Homo sapiens: one gene and its partner. The protein of the gene in region 1 purifies or fractionates together with the protein of each later gene. This does not show direct contact. Each region holds a gene or a part of one and is shown on either strand. Other genes may lie near its edges.

What was found.
Region 2: the proteins of ATF1 (region 1) and MYO1D purify together in Homo sapiens (co-immunoprecipitation; one large-scale study listed by IntAct). This does not show direct contact.

The regions. Positions count from the first base shown.
Region 1 is NC_000012.12:50,816,037-50,818,979, forward strand, and holds part of ATF1 (cyclic AMP-dependent transcription factor ATF-1), read left to right. Parts: intron 1-2,943.
Region 2 is NC_000017.11:32,758,556-32,762,217, reverse strand, and holds part of MYO1D (unconventional myosin-Id), read left to right. Parts: intron 1-1,590; coding exon 1,591-1,736; intron 1,737-1,813; coding exon 1,814-1,928; intron 1,929-2,091; coding exon of another isoform or gene 2,092-2,106; exon of another isoform or gene 2,107-2,406; intron 2,407-3,662. UniProt on the Homo sapiens protein: Unconventional myosin that functions as actin-based motor protein with ATPase activity. Plays a role in endosomal protein trafficking, and especially in the transfer of cargo proteins from early to recycling endosomes.

The DNA of each region.
Region 1 (2,943 bases):
GAGAGTGGAAAAATAGGGCTGGGCGTGGTGGCTTATGCCTGTAATCCCAGCACTTTGGGAGGCCGAGGCGGGAGGATCACTTGAGCCTAGGAGTTCAATGCAAGCCTGGGCAACATACCCATTGCTACAAAAGATAAAAAATTAGCCAGGCATGGTGGCGTGTGCCTAAAATCCCAGCTACTCGGGAGGCTGAGGTGGGAGGATTGCTTGAGCCCAGGGGGTTGAGGCAGCATGATCGCACCACTGCACTTCAGCCTGGGCAACAGAGCAAGACCCTATCTCAAGAAAAAAGAGAGAATGGAAAAATAGGTAACAGAGACTGGGAACGGTGAGGGGCAAGGAGGAGGATGAAGAGAGTTAAAGGGTACAAACCCATACACAGTAAGATAAAAGGAATAAATTCAGTGTTTCATAGCAGAGTAGGATGACCACCCTTAACAAAAACCTATTAATACTCAGGTGATGGACACCCTGAATCCCCTGACTTGATCGCTACACATTATATACATGTAACAGATTTTCTCATGTGCTCCATAAATATGCACAGAAACATTTTAATGGAAAAAACCATACAGGCCAGGCGTGGTGGCTCACACGTGTAATCCCAGCATTTTCGGAGGCCAAGGCAGGAGGATCACTTGAGCCCAGGAGTTTGAGACCAGCCTGGGCAATATAGGGAGACCCCATCTCTAAAAAAAATTTAAAACATTAGCTAGATGTGGTAGAGGCAGGAGAATCACTTGAACCTGGAGGCAGAGGTTGCAGTGAGCCATGATCACGCCATTGTACTTCAGCCTGGGCAACAGAGCAAGACTCTTGTCTCAAAAATAAAACAAACAAAAAAAAACACACAAGTAGTTAATAATCATATAAAAGACTACTCAGCCTTATTAGTAATCAAAGAAATACACATTAATGCTACACATTTAGATACCCTTTATACCCACCCAATTGGCAAAAATTTTAAAGTCTAACCAAGAGTTGGCAAGGATTTGGAACAATGGTCAGGAATTCATAGATACTACTATAGGAGTGTAAATTGATGCAGCCATTTTGGAAATTAGGCCTTATCTTGTACAGTTGACGTGGGTATACTCTGTGACCCAGCTGTTTTAGTCTGTGTGACTGAGAGGAACTTGGAGGAAGTATGTATAAGAATTTTCATAGCAGCAAAAAATCAGGAAACAACCTCAAGATTCATTGATAACAGAATAGGTACATATTGAGCCTAAACATAAAAATGGGGGGAAAAAAGAATAGGTACATAAATTGTGACTGTATTTATAGAATGGAATGTTTATTTGTAATGACTGAATGAATAATCATTTCAACATGAATAAATCTTAGAAAAATTGAATGAAAAAACAAGTTGCAACAGAATACACAAAGTATGATATTTTATAATTTTAGAAAATAAATGATAGCAGTTTTAGGGTCATATACGTATATACTACAACTATAAAAATAAGAAATGAGATGTCACGTAGCAAAAATTATAAAGTGGTAATACTGTCTGTCATTGGGCATATAAGGAAAAGGGTACCTCACATACATTACTGAGGGAAGTACGGAGTTTTATGGTATCTACTTGCCCCAACATTTCTACTTGTATGTGACAAAAGATACCATAAAGAAACTTAAAAATAAGTCTGTTAACTGGGAAAAATATTTGCAACTTTTATATAAAGAGAAAGAATTACGAGATGTATAGGTTATATAAAGATTTATTTCTGTAAATAAGAGACCTAACAGAAGGAAACCGGTCTGTGAAAGATGGCCTTGTAAACATGAAATTATTCCAAACTTTGTGCATAATGAGGGAAATGTTAAAGCAGTGAGGTTCGCTTTTTGTCAGCCGCTAGACTGACAACCATTTTAAAATGTTCATAACAGGCACTCTCATGTACTGCCCCTGGGAATGTAAATGGTACAAATACTCTGGAGGACATTCTGGCATTTTTTCCCTTTTTTCTTTCTGGTTTGACTCTGGGATTTTTTTCCTTCCTTTTTTCCCCCCTTATTTCTCTGTACTTCAATGAATATAAATTGGCACTATCTCTTGACTTTAAGTGAATATAGCTTGTGATCCTTCAAGAAATACATGTGTAGAAATACACGTAAAGAATGGAGGCTGAGTGGGTGGCTCATGCCCATAATCCCGACACCGTGACCAGGAGTGAGACCAGCCTAGGCAACATACTGAGACCTCATCTCTACAAAAATAAAATTAGCTGGTGTGGTGGTGTACACCTGTAGTCCCAGCTACTTGAGAGGCTGAAGTGGGGATATCTTGAGTCCAGGAGGTCAAGGTTGCAATGAGCTGTGATTGTGCCACTGCACTCAGCCTGGTTGACAGAGTGAGACCCTGTCTCAAAACAAAAGAAGAAAAAAGAAAAAGAATGTTTACTGGAAACCACTTAAAACAAACAAACAAACAGAGCTTAAAGGTAAAAATAAAGTCTTTTTGTGAGGGGAAAGATTTTGTACAGTCCTTTTAAAGATGTGTACTAAAAAGCAAGTTGCAAATAGTATCTACATATATAGCATAAAAATCTTAAAATAGTACTGTTTCTTTCTTTCTTTCTTTTTCTGAGACAGAGTCTTGCTCTGTTGCCCAGGGTGGAGTGCAGTGGCGCGATCTTGGCTCACTGCAACCTCCACCTCCCAGCTTCAAGTGATCCTCCTGGGTCAGACTCCCAAGTAGCTGGGATTACAGGCATGTGCCACCACAGCTAATTTTTGTATTTTTAGTAGAGATGAGGTTTTGCCATGTTGGCCAGGCTGGTCTCGAACTCCTGACCTCAGGTGATCTGCCCGCCTTGGCCTCTTAAAGTGCTGGGATTACAGGCATGAGCCACCATGCCTGGCCAATACTTCCGATTTCTATATGTATATAAACTTACATATGACTTCACAGAAATGTTTTAAGAGGACATGCACAGA
Region 2 (3,662 bases), on another chromosome or scaffold:
CCAGTCACAGGGCCTGTGCACATCTGTTCCCTCTGCTTGGACTGCTCTTCTCTCCTCTCTTGCTTGGCTACCTCTTACTCATCCTTCTGGTCTCAAGTATCACTTTCCCAGAGAGGCCTTCCCTAACCTTCCTGAGCACTGCATAGATTAAATTTCCCTAAGACCCCATGTACCTCTCCTTTAGTGTGGATGTTTATCTGCGAGGTGGGGGGCAAGTGAGAGAGACAGAGAGAATAATTTTTTCCTTCACTCTATTCCCTAAGTTTCTTGGACATTGAGACTATGTTTGTGTTTGCCTAGACCTGTATCTCTAACAAACTATATATAATAAGTATTCAGCAAATATTTGTTGAATAAATCAGTGAATTTCTAAGTGGTGCTATTTATTTGTGGCTAAAAGTAGGATAGGAACAGTTGTTGGAAGAGGAAAGATCAAGAGTCCTTTGAGTTTGAGATGGCTGTGAGCCATTGAAGAGTCAGTGTCAGGTAGACAGTCAAGCTCTTGAGTCAGGAGCTCAGAGACTGTTCTCTGAGTCTGGATTTGGATAATACTTTTGGGAGTCATATTATATTTGTATTATTTAATCCTGGGTGAGATGATTTAGAAGGTGCTAGAGAGTGAAGAGAAGAGGACCAGGAAGAACTCCAACTTTTACAAGTCAGGTAGAAGAGGAGACTCTACCAAAGGTCACCAAAAAGGAACATCCAGTGAACAAAGAGTAAAATTCAGAAAGGCTATTATCCGAAATCCAGAGAGAAGAGTGTTCCAAGAAGGCAGTGAAAACCTAGGTTGAGTGATGCTGAGCGACAGAGCAAGATGTCCATATGAGGTACGAGAAGTATCTATGTAGAGGTGCTGGGAGTCTTTGATGAGCCATTTCAATGGAGTAATAGGATGTAAGTGGAGACTGGAGTGGATTGAAGAGTAAAGGGGAGGTAATGGATATGGGTGAAGAGAGTGGGTAGCTGGCAGGAGACGTTAAGGAAGGTTTTCTAACGATGTGACGTTGCAGAGCACATGTGTATCGGGATGTGAATGTGTGTTAGCGTGTGGCACCTTTGTCCATGTGTGGCTTAGTGTGTGTGTTCTTGTGCATTGGATGTGTGTTCGATTCTCAGGGAATTTCAACCCTTGATCTTTGGCTCAGATCTTCATTTAGCATTAGAAATCAATATTTATATTTTTTAGAATTCATATAGCTTTAGTGGATCATAGATATTAACTCACTAGCTCTCAACTCTTTATAGTTGATGAAATTAATAATAAAGCAATGAACTGGCTTATTCAAGGGATCAGGCAAACTATTGATATAGCCGGGCAGGGAAACATGCCTGGAGAGTGTCGTTGGAATTGGTATAATGACCGGTAATAATCTTTTAAAAATACAAGCTATTTACTTTAGTTTTGCATACATCAGGTAGTTTGGGTTTTTTTAAATGGACAGTCTACATTTTCATTTGTTCTGCTGAGGCCAGTAATGGCTATGCTAAACAGTGAGAAGGTGGACAGGAATTTAAAACTGATCACAAATCCAAACAGAGGACTCATTCCCAAATTGGCAAGCATTTATGATGCTATTTTCCTTGCAGGCAATATATGAGCGCCTTTTTTGTTGGATCGTTACTCGCATCAATGATATTATTGAGGTCAAGAACTATGACACCACAATCCATGGGAAAAACACTGTTATTGGTGTCTTGGATATCTATGGCTTTGAAATCTTTGACAACAACAGGTAAACTGGAAAAGATACTTAAAACCTTGTTGCCTGTTTTCTATTTGTTGAAACTTAATTTATTCCTTTTCTTGTAGTTTTGAACAATTCTGTATCAATTACTGCAATGAGAAACTGCAGCAGCTATTTATTCAGCTGGTTCTGAAGCAAGAACAAGAGGAATACCAGCGGGAAGGGATCCCCTGGAAACATGTGAGTGGACTCTTATGGAAAATGCCTTCATGTGTTTCTCATATTATTGATAATGTCAAATTTTATTTTAGGTATTTCTTGATCTTTTGGGGGTATTTGAAACATCTGAACCTTAGCTTTCCTTTTTGGGATATGTAAATACAATTAATTTCATCATTTTTAGGTGGGATTGCTATAATTTGATAGACTGCCTTGTTGATGCCCAGAACATCCTGAGTTAGAACCAGTAAACCTGTTTTCACTTTATGGCTGCTACCACGTGGACTTACTGGTTTATATCTGTCTGTTAGGTTTAGCATACTTTATTAAGTTATACCTTAAATTGGCTGAACTTTGCTTCAGAATCTAGTTTCTTCTTCCCTTTTTCCTCCTTTTTCTCCTCTTCTACTTTGTAGACTATATGGTATTTTATTGTCTTCAGTTAATGTTGTTTATATTCTCTGAAACCTACACATTAAAATACTTGTTTTACTTTGCATTTTCTTGTGTATTACACTTCAATTATCACCTCTACTCTAATCAATCTTTGGGAACTTTTGTATTTGTCAGAGGCAAACTAATCTGGTAAGATATAGCTGGAAAGTATAATGGGTGCACAGTGCAAACCACAGAGATCAAAGCTAAAAGGCATGACTTGTTTGGTTTTTAAATTTCCTGTGATAAGACCTTCTGTTTATGATAGAAATGAGACATAGTAATTTTTCTTGTAAGTTTGTATTTTTAAGCAATTTTGAGAATAAACTTGAAAAATACAAAAACTTTTAAGTTTCTGTAGTTTGAGTTTATATGATTGTTCATCCTCTTGCCAGAGAATAGAAATGAAGCCAGTATTTGTTTTTTGTTATCCAATATAATAGCAGCAAAAAAATATTTGAAATACTATATTTAAATGACTTTTATCTTCCTTCCTACCTATTTTCTATTTCCTCTCATTCTGAAATAAAGAGACAGTGATATAACAAATAGCTTTCCCGCCTCAAAATTGTATCTGCCTTCCATCATGTGTTAAACGTTAGAATACCATAAAACAGTTGCTCAGGTATATTGGCATAAATTTTACCTATCTGCATATAAACCAAAGGGCTATTTTATATAAGAATTATCTATAGTTTGACTTAAATAATGAACTCTCCTAATACAATTAAAATTTAATTCAGTTCAATTAAGTGTATATGAAGCTTTCTAAGAATGAAACTGTTGTATAATATAATACACGGTATAACTGAAGCTTGGATTTTTAATACCAAATTTAATCATAAAACTTGTTATTCAAATGTGATTCCAAGGTACTAGTCAAAAATATCCTTTCACAATCAGAATATCAAATTTCACAGACATAATTGACAACAGGGTAAGTAATGCAGTGGACTGTTCCAAACATCTCAAAAAGAATTAAGAATCCCAAAATGCAAAAAATTTTCGCTAAATAAACCAAGAACTATTTGTCCTAGAGGGAGCAGAAGGCTAACTCCAAGGTAACAGTTACTTACTACATGGCAGATCCCCCCACAATTAGAATCTCTATTCTGGGTAAAACCCCAAACTTCTAAACATAGTGATTCTTTTTAAAAGATTTTTTATTATGGAAAATTTTAAACACACATTAAGAAGACAGACTATAGTACAGTAAACCCTATATACCCATCACCTGGCTTTAACACGTACCAGTTGATTGCCAGTCTTATGCCATCTGTACTATACCCACCTACTCCCAGATTATTTTGAAGCAAATTT